2 linked regions of the Homo sapiens genome follow. The protein of the gene in region 2 interacts with the protein of the main gene of each other region in a pairwise test. Each region holds a gene or a part of one and is shown on either strand. Other genes may lie near its edges.

What was found.
Region 1: the proteins of ELMO1 (region 2) and DOCK3 interact in a two-hybrid assay, tested with the Homo sapiens proteins (one study listed by BioGRID).

What each region holds. Positions count from the first base shown.
Region 1 is NC_000003.12:51,356,884-51,364,059, reverse strand, and holds part of DOCK3 (dedicator of cytokinesis protein 3), read right to left. Parts: intron 7,099-7,176; coding exon 6,919-7,098; intron 6,303-6,918; coding exon 6,219-6,302; intron 6,100-6,218; coding exon 5,983-6,099; intron 3,550-5,982; coding exon 3,428-3,549; intron 2,202-3,427; coding exon 2,063-2,201; intron 1,534-2,062; coding exon 1,386-1,533; intron 1-1,385. UniProt on the Homo sapiens protein: Potential guanine nucleotide exchange factor (GEF). GEF proteins activate some small GTPases by exchanging bound GDP for free GTP.
Region 2 is NC_000007.14:36,852,406-36,858,040, reverse strand, and holds the end of ELMO1 (engulfment and cell motility protein 1), read left to right. Parts: intron 1-2,289; coding exon 2,290-2,490; 3' UTR 2,491-5,135; downstream 5,136-5,635. UniProt on the Homo sapiens protein: Involved in cytoskeletal rearrangements required for phagocytosis of apoptotic cells and cell motility. Acts in association with DOCK1 and CRK. Was initially proposed to be required in complex with DOCK1 to activate Rac Rho small GTPases.

The sequences.
Region 1 (7,176 bases), on a different chromosome or scaffold from region 2:
GGAGATTCCTCAAGGATCTAGAACTAGAAATACCATTTGACCCAGCCATCCCATTACTGGACATATACCCAAAGGATTATAAATCATGCTACTATAAAGACACATGCACATGTATGTTTACTGCGGCACTATTCACAATAGCAAAGACTTGGAACCAACCCAAGTGTCCATCAATGACAGACTGGATTAAGAAAATGTGGCACATATACACCATGGAATACTATGCTGCCATAAAAAAGGATGAGTTCATGTCCTTTGTAGGGATATGGATGAAGCTGGAATCCATCATTCTGAGCAAACTATTGCAAGGACAGAAAACCAAACACTGCATGTTCTCACTCATAGGTGAGAACTGAACAATGAGAACACTTGGACACAGGGTGGGGAACATCACACACTGGGGCCTGTTGTCAGGTGGGGGAAGTGGGGAGGGATAGCATTAGGAGATATACCTAATGTAAATGACGAGTTAACGGGTGCAGCACACCAACATGGCACATGTATACATAGTAACAAACCTGCACGTTGTGCACATGTACCATAGAACTTAAAGTATAATAAAATAAATAAATAAATTTGTGATATTTTTCTTTGGTTTCATAATAATGAGAAGAACAAAGAGACTCCCTCCTTCTGAAGCCTGGAAGCAAGAGCAAGTGACTGGCTGGCAAGCTCAGACCACTGTCACTACCCTGCAAAGCCAACCCTGGGAAGCACTAGATCCTATGTACCACAGCTAATTTCCATTCCACTGCAAATGTTTCTGTCTACAAGGACAGAATCAACTTTCACTTGGGAACTAGGATTAGAACGTGAAAAAGATGCGAAGATGCTGCCTCTCAAAGAACAATATTCATTCAACTGAACAAGAAATCAACTAATAATTGGCAAAGTAAATAGGTTTTTACAGAGCCATCTCTCCTGAGAAAGCCTTTCCCAACTGAAGAAAAATTTTTTGGTTGCTGTTATTGTTTTAGAATAACATTTTCCAGGGTTAATTTTAGTCTCCCGATTTACTTTTCATACTTTGTCATCATGCCTGATTCCTCAAGACAAAAGACTCACTTTTGCCTAGACTTTGATCTTTGTTCTAGCAAAACTTTCAATGGGAAAGAAGTGAGCTTTCTTCTAAGCTGTGTGTCCTGTGACTGAGGTAGAAATGCAATGGCGGCACAGCGGCAGCCACTGCTCAGAGCGGAGTCTGAAGCCAGCCAGGGAAGAGGCCTGGAGGCAGGAACTCTCGAGTCCTTAGTGGTAAAAGCACAAATGAGTATTCTCTAAGTCACAGGGCTGCTCAAAGACACAGCCACAGATGAGAGGAAGCCGAGTGGCGTTGATGAAGACCTCTCTTCTCCATTCTGCAAGTAGCACCCTGCCATCCTTACCTCGGGCACTGGAAGGGGCAGAGGTAATCATCTGGGATGGTGCTGAGTGAGTGGAACTCAGGCTGGAGGAAGAAGGGCTTGCCTGGGACGAGGACAGAACAGAGACGTTGGTGACTGAGCCTTGGTACCTGGGGTTGGGATACGCGAGCTGCAAAGGGAGAAAAATCAGCAGGATAGAGGTCTGAATGGCCAGGACTTTAGGGCTGGCACAGAGTTTGCTTTTTCATGCCCTGAGGTGTTCTGCCCCAGTGCCTTATGCTATCCCCTGAGCCCTGATGGAGGCCAGGCTAATGGCTGGGCAACTAGGGGCCACCCACACCACCCATATGGAGCGAAGTTGTTGGGCTGGCCATACTACGGTGACCATGGAGGAAGCAGGGCTAAGCCAACAGGAATGCCAGGCAAGGGGGCAATCTGGCAGAGGATCTTTCCCGTGGGATCTCCTAAAGCAACCAGGACTGAAGCTGGATTTTCTTCTTGGGAAATAAGGCCTGGGAACCGAGACTTAGGATGGTGTGTGGAGGAACGGCAGCTTTCTAGCTCTGGTGAGGGGTGTTCTGAATTCAGGAGCTAGAGAATTAGGCAGGGTTGCCAAGCCCTCAGACTAGACATTGCAACAGCAAGGTGAGTTCTGTAGGCATGGTGCCCTGGCCCACTCTCCGTGGACAGCTCTGTACCTGCATGTGGTGGTACAGGTCCTCAGGAGCATCACCCATGGAGCCGTCACCCAGCATCACCATGTTTCCTGCTTCACTAGACGCATGTGAGGAGAGAGAGGATGATGAATGGCGGCCTGTGCCCATCAAGTTCATGGGGCTGTGAGCAAGAGTGGGAAATAGGGAGGAGTCAGGCCCATGGCAGGTGGCAGGGGGACAGTAGAGCGGAATGTGTGGAATAGTCATCCCTGGTTTCAGCTACCACCGGTTTGGAGGGTTCCATAGTCAATGCTCATACCCATCTGAGGCCTGGAGCAGTCCTGAGCTGTACCCTGCTACTCAGGAGCCCTTGGTCTGGGAGAGACAATGGTGTGGTACACTGGACAAGCCTCTACCTACAGCTACATGGCTTATGGCCACTCAGTTGCATGACATTAGCAGTTTCTCAGGAGGAATAAGAGATATGCCAAATCAGGTCAAAGACCTCAGGTTCCCCTTTCTATGGGGTATTAGTCTGGGTCAGTGCCCACCCCCCAACCCCCCCACACCATGATGGGATCTGCTTCTTGGTCAGAGGCTTCTTCCTAGTGTGGGAAGCTACCAAAATAGCCGGCTGTGAACTATCTGCAGGCCTCCTTCCACATCTGTGGCCAAAAGGCTTGTCAATAGCTCTCCTCTAGCAATACCAGGAAAGCTTCTCATTCATTTGTCCCTTATTTACTAAGTGCCCACTCTGTGCTGAGCTGCTGCTCACACTGGAAAACAAGCCTAAGTGAGGGGCTCCTCTCACTAGTCTCCTCCTCCAACTTGGCCTTCCTGGCCTAGAGGCTTTCAGTATTCTCAGTTGAGCCCAGGCAAACCAGTCTTTGATGTTCACATCACTATGCTGTTTCTTCCTTAAAACTGACTTGGTGATCCTCATTCTCCTTGGGATCAAGTCCAAAGGCCTGCATGAACAAGGCCCACTCAGAGCTGATCCTATCCCCTTTCCGTGCCCTGGAATCCGGCACTCCAGCCACTTGGCTCTACTCAGAGTGCTGACCAGGCTGGCTTGTTCATATCTTGAGGCTTCTGCATGTGTCAGTCGATTTTCCTAGATCTTGCCCTATCACCCTCCTAACCCCTAGCAAACATCTACTTATCCTTCAAGACTTACCCCAAATGCCCCCTCCTCCATGTTCCCACAGTATCATGTATACACTTCTCTTACCCAGGATAGTGACTGACTGAATGCAGGGTGTGGGTCCTATGGCAGGAGCCACATAAGTGTTTGCTGTGTGCATGGGTAAGAGGGAATATGAGTATACATGAGGACTCTTTCCTCTGACCCTTGACAATTTAGACTCACCTCTCCAGAGGGAACCCTCCCCAGCCCTAAGGCCATACCTGTGCCGGTGGGTCATCTTGATGCTCTCCGGACTCATGGGGCTATGGGATGCCAGAACATTTCCCCGTGGGGTGCTGGTGCCTGAACATGCAGGACTTAGCTTATCCAAACCTGGAAACTCCTGTTGAGAAATGAATGCCCCTTCATAGAGAGTAAAGAATAAATAAGTAACTAAGGGATGTGAGGGAATAACTGACTGGTGATCAAAAATGTAAAAGAAACAAAAAAGAATCATATGGTTGGCTGAACCTGAACTGCTGACTTCCTTTGGGCAATGCCCTCTTCACGACTAAAACACCCTCCTAACTGCACTGGAACCTAGACCAAAGGCCGTGTGCGAGGCCCCAGGTTGACTCCACATTAAGAGAAGCACATCTGGAATAAACTGAAGCTGGTCTGAGCTCATAGGAGTGTGTTAACAGGTTTTCTCGCTACGGAATAAGTAGAACAAGATCTGGGAAGAAGGAGAGGAAGAGCTTATTATTAGTTGTCAATAGGTGGGCACCAATTACATAAGGATTGGTGTTGGGTTTTATTAGACTGCTAAATGGCCCAGCTCTTAGTGACCTGGGTTGTCTGTGACACAGTCTACGGGGAGACAGAACATAAAATCCTGATGTATGTAACTGAAAAATAGCACAGCTCTATTTTAGCTTAATTAATTCATATTAAGTATGTAGATTTCTGGGCAGACACTTCTGATCTCAAACCCTACTGGGTGACAGCATGTTTGTTTGTGTCCCTGTGTACAACTCAGAGGAAACAACTGTTAAGGTTTCCTCACGTCCTTCAAAAGCTGTAGTGAACAGGGGCCCTAAGTCCACTGGGGATATTTCTGAGCTTGGTGTGAAGAAGCACCGGGTTTTCCACCTGCTTCTTCCAAAGCATACAGAGGGCTAAAATGTATTTCTGTAGCTGGAGAAAGGCTATGTGTGCACACGGAAGAACGTGATGTATATAGGAAAGTGTTTTGTGCTTTTTGCTGCAACCCACATGGCAGAGAACCTCCTCACTGGCCAGGCTCCAGCCTGCTTGGGTCACCTGCTGTGATGGGGAAGTTTGCACACAGCAGAGACCAGTCAAACAGGCAGGAGACCCTGGAATGAGAGGTAGTGGAATGAATACCCACCAGACTCAGCGATACTGCCCAAGTTCTTAACTAAATGGACACTCCAATTTTAAGGCGGAGATGTAAAAGAGCTTCTCTGCATATTTCACCTTGAAATACCATGGGAGAATCCTAACAGAGGGAGAAATTTCAGGATCTCCAGGCTTTCCTCTGGAAAATGTGCCCCTACCTCTCAAACTACAACAAGCTTCTTTTTCTCTTTTCATGCTGTCCACACTTGTCCACACAGGCTGAGACCTGCACTGGGAGCCTGGAGGGACGGAGATGACCAGAACCTGCAGCATCCAAGAACACAGCAGGTCCGCCCCAAATGGGTCAGGCCCACTGAGTTTAAGTAGTGCAACCTCCCTCAGGGCTCCTGTGGCCATGGTTATCCCTAGAGGGGGAATTTTTTGCTCATGACAACCTCGTGCAGCATTGAACAGCTCTACTTCTTGTCTCCCTGCCACTTCTGTCCAGTGGTCCTGGGTGATGAGAAGAGAACTTGGCTTGGGTGCCAGGTAGCAGCAGGTAATTGGGCTCATATCCCTTAAGATCTGGGAGCCAGCCTGTTTAGCAGGAAGGGATCTTTAGAAAACATTTGGAGTCAGCCCCACAGTTGAAAATGAGGTTTGGATATGTGAATAGGGGGCTCTATCCTCAGCCAGTCAGCATTTCCTCTAAGACCCTGCCAAGGAATACTGGTCCTGGAATATAAGTCCTGTTTGTGTGTTTAAGTCCTTGGGCCAAACCCTACTGTGGAGGCTGAAGAGCTGGGCCAGAGTTAGGGAGACTTTCAGGAGCCTGGTCCAGCCCCAGGACCTGCTTGACTCCTTTAAGGACTGCTAGCATGAAAGTACTGCTCATCCTAGGCTATCTCAGATGTGAGCTTGGATCACGAGACATGATAGAGGAAGCTGGGAATAAGAGGGAGGGAGAGACAGAGGGAGAAAAGGGAGTTGGGAGGAAGAGTAAAAAGAGGGAAAAGAGAACGATTAGAGGGAGGAGAAAGAATGAAGAAGGACAGGGAGAGAGGAGGAGGAGGGAGATGGGGAGAGAAGGCTGGCTCAGGCCATGCCTATCTCTTTAGGTTCTTGGGATGAAAAACATCTCCAAAAAGATCCCTACATGTGGGCCATATATGTTAGCTCTCTTCCTTCACATATGAAAACCTGTCTACTAGCACAGTGCCCTGAAAAACGTTCCCTGCCCTTGAATCTGGCTCCTCCTTTGGGAGTGAGTGAGTGGGAGGATCCTCAGCATCCTTCCCCTGGATATAGCATCCATCCTTGCCCCCTGTCCCTCTGTAGGGAGGACAGCCTCTCTCCCCAACCCCGGCCCCTGCCCAGGCTCCCTCTCTCCTATTTTCCTTTGGTTTGTGGCGTAGGTCTGGAGGAAGTGACACCTGGTTCTACTGCAGCAGGGGCAGGACAGGGATCAACTTACATGGTAGAGACTGGCCCGCATCATCTGGAACTGATCAATTAGCTTCTTATGCAGAGGCCGCATTTCTGGGTGCACAAACTTCTCATGAACTGCTAGCCCAACTCCAAGGACATGAACCTATCAGAGTCACAAACAAGGCCACTCTGTGAACCATGAGTAGCCCCTGAGAACTGCTCATCTTGTAGTGCATGGCTTTTCTCACCTGGCTGCTGGTTCCCAAGCCCTCCAAGACATACCTGCTCCTGCATAAGCTCCTTGAGCTGGGTGATCTTCTCAGCATCTCCTGGGTGCTTGTTGATGTAATCTTTATCAAAGAAGGCCTGTGAAAGGAAAGGCCAAGTCAGGAAGACTCTTCCCAGGACTACTACTTAAGTGGGGCCCAGGAGACTTGAGTCCACTAATGCCACCTAAAAAGCAGCCAGGCTGTCTCCTCATAGGTACATACACCAGTCTGGCCTGTTTGAACTTCTGGCAATTAGAGGTGTGTTTTTTTGTCTGAGAAGGACTGAACGTGGCCAAGCCATCTAAGTCTGGATGCTGACCCCAGTCCCTCATGGAGCCTGGATGGCCTAGGTAGGGCAGGCAGGACTGGTGGACTGGGAGTAGGGGCTAGCCTCTTATCCAGCCTACAACTCACTTCTCCTGACGGGCTGGGCTCCAAGGCTCCTCTTGGAGGGCACTTAACATCCTCCCATAATCAGGATTACAGATTACCCATCTTAGAGTTCAGAGAATAAAAATGAAGAAAAGGCCCTACCAAACTGTGCCAAAGAAATAGGGAGTGATAGGGAGCTTAGGGCCTCATTCCAGGACCATGTCAAGAGAGGGCATGTAGGGAAGGCTACCTAAGGAGACTATAATCTTGAAAAGAGAAGCCTGTGAGCCGCCTTCCTGGCCAGGCTGGCTGCATGGGTTTGGCCTGTGGCCACAGCTTACCTCCTGATAGCGTGCAATGCCTCCATTGACAGCTGCATCAATGACACCATTCAGGCACATGCTTAGCAGGTTAATGTTGCCATGCACCTGCTTGTGTTGATACTGGCTGATCAGGGAGCGTAGCTCCTGGTTCTTATTCTCAACCACTTGGATGGCATTCTCCAGAGGGCTCACCTCCACCTAGGGGCACACAGCACACAGAGTCATCCCAGAAATGATGATAACCCCTCATCATCTTCCTGAGAGCTGGGGTCTAAG
Region 2 (5,635 bases):
GAATTGTGTCTCAATATGTTGCAGTTACTGTCGTTATTAGTTTCTAAGTTATCCTGTCTGGAACAAGTAGGAACACCATTGGGTTGGCATCTGAGTCCTATTGGGAGGACCCCTTACGTCTTTGATAACTTTCTGGCATTCTGGTATGATGGAGTGTTCCAGGTTTATCTTTATGTTTCCTGCCTTTTCTCTGTGAAGCCTTGATTACTTGTAGTGGGAAATGATATTTAGTGACCAGAATCTAAGCATGAGTTGTGTTTATGGTCATTGCACACCACGATGCAGTGGTTCTTGGTTGGTCATTATTTTTTAGCCCTTTTTGGGGACAGAGCTAGGTGGTTTTCTTTTAAGATAAACTAATGAATTGATACTGATAGTTCCAACTCAAATTCAGTATCAGTACTACAGGGTTTTTATTTATTGGTCGATGTACTTTCACATAAAATTTTCTGTGCCTGTTGTTTCTAAAAAGAAACGTGCTGCAGAAGTGTTCCTGTGGGTTAAACTAATCTATACTAGGAAGCTAGCCAGGCCTGGGAAGGCTGTGTGAAAAGAACAGTAATCCCCAGGACTTGGGGATTTACCATGAAACAGCATGAAAGCTGGAAGGGGCCTTTGAGAATGTAGAGTTCAGTGGCACCCGTACCTGCGTGTTCGTTAGAGTTTTCTAGGAAGCAAAGTCTCCTCACCCTAGATCTACATGATCAGGATCTCCAAGGTAGGAGCTAGGTGTCTACTTCTGTCAAGGTTATTTATGAAGAAATTGATGGTTAGACATGTTCAGAATCAGATCATGAGGACACTAATTCTTCCGGAAATCCCTTAACACTAAATTGATGTTTCGATGGGTTAAATGCTTTGGCTGAGATCACATAGCCAAGGTAGAACCAAAGCCCTCCAAATCAATGCTGCCCTCCTGAAACACAGATCTCATAATACACCCATTGTGCATCTCCTCAGCTTAAAAAGGAGGACCGCTGATGTGCATCACGGAAGATTTCCATCACATCATGGTGACTGGAGATTTATATAGTGCTTGCAGTATACTTTGGTTACTTTTACGTTGAGATCTGCTACCATGGAATACAGTCCAGATAACCACAGTGCCAAAGTAGGTTAAAGAGGGTCTGGAATTGCCGCTTGAACTAGTGAGGCAGAAAAGTTGGGAATCTGGAGTGCATGGTAGAAGGAAGACCACTTCAACAGAAGAGGAGAACAATTGCTGTTATAGAATCCTATATAGGACTACTAGAAACCTAAACTCCAGTGCATGAGTGGAGCCCAGCATCCAGAATGCCAAGCAGCTTTCTGAGATGCTGGCATCAGGGGTGCCTCTTTCACCAGGTGTCATGGTTCTCTGTCCATGTCAGTACAGAACTCCAGCCTCTGGGAGGGGAAGCTAAGAAGAGAAAAGCAGGTCCTCAGACAAGGCACAGTTCTTCCTTCTCCCTCACAGAGATCATAGTCTCCTGGAGAGACAAAAGGCTATGAAAGGAGAAGAATCAGACTCTTAGTTGGGTACTGTGAAGGGCTTTCCAAAACAGATAATATCCCCAAGTATGAGGCCCCAGAGACCTGGTGAAAAGAAACCTTAGGAACTAGAGACAAAGGCTAAAGAGGTCCCCAGACAGGCAGCCAACCCTCCTCCCATTAAGATTGCCCAATAATTTTAACCATTTTGGCTGCCAGACACTGGGCAGCATAAGCCTATTTCCTAGCCCTTTAGCTGAGAAACACCAAGGTGGGACTGCCATTGGCCATTGGCTCCAGGGTGGGACAGGGCTGTCATTGTGAATGCTAGGATCAGACAGGACAGGCCGAGATGAGCTACTAGACTAGGAGCCATGACTGGAGTCAGCAAAGAAACCTGCTTCACCTGATGTTGAGTCCAGGGCTGTTCGGTAGATTCCACCAGTACCTAAAAGTCATAGACTCCCACCTAGGTGTTACATTGCAAGTCATGGAGAACTCCAATCCTCAGCTGTTACAGAGAAGCATTCTTTGCAAAGAAGAGCACAGGCACTGGAGTCAGATTGCCTGGGTTCAAATCCCACCCGGTCTACATAATACTGAGTCACTTCTCTGTACCTCAGTTCCTTCACCTATAAAACAGAGATAACAGAAGTATCGACTTTATATTGAGATGTCGCCAAATATGAAATGACGAAGTAGGCAGAGCCCTTAGCGCACAGCCTACTGAGGGATGAGTATTCACTGTTAGCTATTTTTACTATTAATACTTCTGTAATTGCCACCAGTAATGATCGCTGTTGCCTCCCTTCCTGCCAGTACTGTATCTGGACGGATGGACTGAATGCGCTACTCGGGAAGGACATGATGAGCGACCTGACGCGGAATGACCTGGACACCCTGCTCAGCATGGAAATCAAGCTCCGCCTCCTGGACCTGGAAAACATCCAGATCCCTGACGCACCTCCGCCGATTCCCAAGGAGCCCAGCAACTATGACTTCGTCTATGACTGTAACTGAAGTGGCCGGGCCCAGACATGCCCCTTCCAAAACTGGAACACCTAGCTAACAGGAGAGAGGAATGAAAACACACCCACGCCTTGGAACCGTCCTTTGGTAAAGGGAAGCTGTGGGTCCACATTCCCTTCAGCATCACCTCTAGCCCTGGCAACTTTCAGCCCCTAGCTGGCATCTTGCTCACCGCCCTGATTCTGTTCCTCGGCTCCACTGCTTCAGGTCACTTCCCATGGCTGCAGTCCACTGGTGGGACAAGAGCAAAGCCCACTGCCAGTAAGAAGGCCAAAGGGCCCTTCCATCCTAGCCCTCTGCAGGCATGCCCTTCCTTCCCTTGGGCAGGAAAGCCAGCAGCCCCAGACTGCCCAAAAACTTGCCCACCAGACCAAGGGCAGTGCCCCAAGGCCCCTGTCTGGAGGAAATGGCCTAGCTATTTGATGAGAAGACCAAACCCCACATCCTCCTTTCCCCTCTCTCTAGAATCATCTCGCACCACCAGTTACACTTGAATTAAGATCTGCGCTCAAATCTCCTCCCACCTCTCTCCCTGCTTTTGCCTTGCTCTGTTCCTCTTTGGTCCCAAGAGCAGCAGCCGCAGCCTCCTCGTGATCCTCCCTAGCATAAATTTCCCAAACAGTCCACAGGTCCCATGCCCACTTTGCGTCTGCACTGTGATCGTGACAAATCTTCCCTCCTCACCAGCTAGTCTGGGGTTTCCTCTCCCTGCCCCAGGCCAGAACTGCCTTCTTCATTTCCACCCACGCTCCCAGCCTCTTAGCTGAAAGCACAAATGGTGAAATCAGTAGTCTCGCTCCATCTCTAATAGACTAAACCTAAATGCCTCTAGGACGGACTGTTGCTATCCAAGCGTTTGGTGTTACCTTCTCCTGGGAGGTCCTGCTGCAACTCAAGTTCCACAGGATGGTCAAGCTGTCAGACATCCAAGTTTACATCATTGTAATTATTACTGGTATTTACAATTTGCAAGAGTTTTGGGTTAGTTTTTTTTTTTTTTTTTGCTTTGTTTTTGTACAAAAGAGTCTAACATTTTTTGCCAAACAGATATATATTTAATGAAAAGAAGAGATACATAAATGTGTGAATTTCCAGTTTTTTTTTAATTATTTTAATCCCAAACATCTTCCTGAAAATAACATTCCCTTAAACATGCTGTGGAATAAAATGGATTGTGATGATTTGGGGAGCTGGTGTTTTGATTTAGTAACTTAGGTTCTTGCTACTCAGTCATCAGCATCACCTGGGAGCTTGTTGGAGATGCCAGCTCTTCAGCTCCACCCTAGACCTGCTGAATTGGGTGATGTTTATGTACATTGGTTTGAAAAACACTGCTGTGGGAAACCCTCCACCATTGCTAGGTCACCATAGGCTCTGAGCATCAGTGGAGAATGTTACTTCTAAGAAGACCATCTCGACTCACTGAGAAAATCAGACCCACTGTATGAAAATATCTATTCCTTTTACATTGCTGTCTCTTGACCATGACTTTCTCTTTTTTCTTTCTTACCATGATATAATTTATAGAATGGGTCTAATTAAAGACATCACAACTTTGAGGGAGCACATTTAGCAATGAAAAGAATGCATACCCACAGACCTGAAATAAGCCAGAACTAAATAAATCTAACCGTGGGTTAATAAATTATAGGTCAGAGCCCAGCGAAGGATGTTTCTTAAGTCATTTGCACTGGAGGCATTATCAGGATTGTAAACTCCCAGCACTGGGAGGGATGTCAGAAGGGTCCAAGCATGCAGTATTAAGCGTGGCACAGCACCAGCCACTCTGGCCTCACAGCACAAGCTGTGGAAGCATCCAGGTCATTTCTCTTTACCGTCATCAGGATGTGCAATTACAGATTGACCTGGGTTGAGATGATATGGTCCAGAGCACTGCATGCATTGCAGGAAAAAAGTCCTTTGCATTCACAGGGGTTCCTTCTTCCCATCAGAGCACTCACACCTGTGTCAAGCTGTTAATTCCTTGATCATTAAGCTTCGATGTTATTAACATGTACTTGCTATCAGGAGCAGTTATTAATCTACCCATCATCATGATAAAACAGTAAGTGTTAGGTCAAAGGCAGCAAACAAAGTCATATTATTTTTTTCTTATGGGTTACAAGATCCAATCCATGAAAAAGGGAACTTTCTGGACCAGGATCTCTGAGGTCCTGAGACACTGGGTTTAAGAAATGTATCTGTCCTGTGACCTTGGTTGGGGAGATCCAGCCCCTCTCTCTTCTGGCACTCCAGCTTTGGTGCATTTAATAGAAAGAAACCTTTTCAGGACTATGAAAGGCAGCATTCTCCAGCTCCTCCCTAGACCCTCCTTTGGACCTGTGAGATCTGAAGAGTATGCCATCTGTTTCCATTCATTTTGTGACCATGTGGGGAAGGATTGTTGCCCATATTTGGCCACCTCACCTTCTCTCTCCAGGCTGCCCAAGGCTTTTTTTCCCATGCAATGAGCCTACCACCTCCAACTCATCTCCTGTTGCCTGCAGTTTCCTAAGCCTGGGCAACTCAGCCAAATCCAAGGCAGAAGTAAAGTAGGAAGACTGATGTTGTCGTGAAGTCCAAGTTGCATTCTGCTATTCATATTACTCAAAATAAAACTGATTACTTAATTTGAATCTGCTGATGTTTAAATTCCTCTCTTATTCTTGTTCAGAACACATAAGAGGAAGGAGAATTAACTGGCCTCTGAAACCTCTGTGACAACATTTAAGGGCAGGGAAAGCTAATAGTAATTGCAAAAGAAAAAGTGCAAGGCTGAATGTTTCTTGAGTCTATTTGCAAGTCCGTTCTAAGCCATCCTTCAGTTATCACCTACAGCATGTCCTGTCCACCTGCTTTTACAATGAACAAAGCAATGGGTGTCCCCAATGACATGCATACCAGTCATCCATTTTGTTTTAGTTATGAAAATACAATTAACACAATCCTTTCATTTTAAGGGGAAATGAAATATCCATTCAATAATCAAAAGTGTGCTTAGAGATAGGCCCTAGGAACTCAACAAGAACAAAATTTGTAAAATTGAGATTTGTAAAAATGAGAACAAAATTCATCAAATCAGGGAAATGACAAGCAACTTAGTCAAATATAAAACCGAAAAGTTGCAGCACAGTGT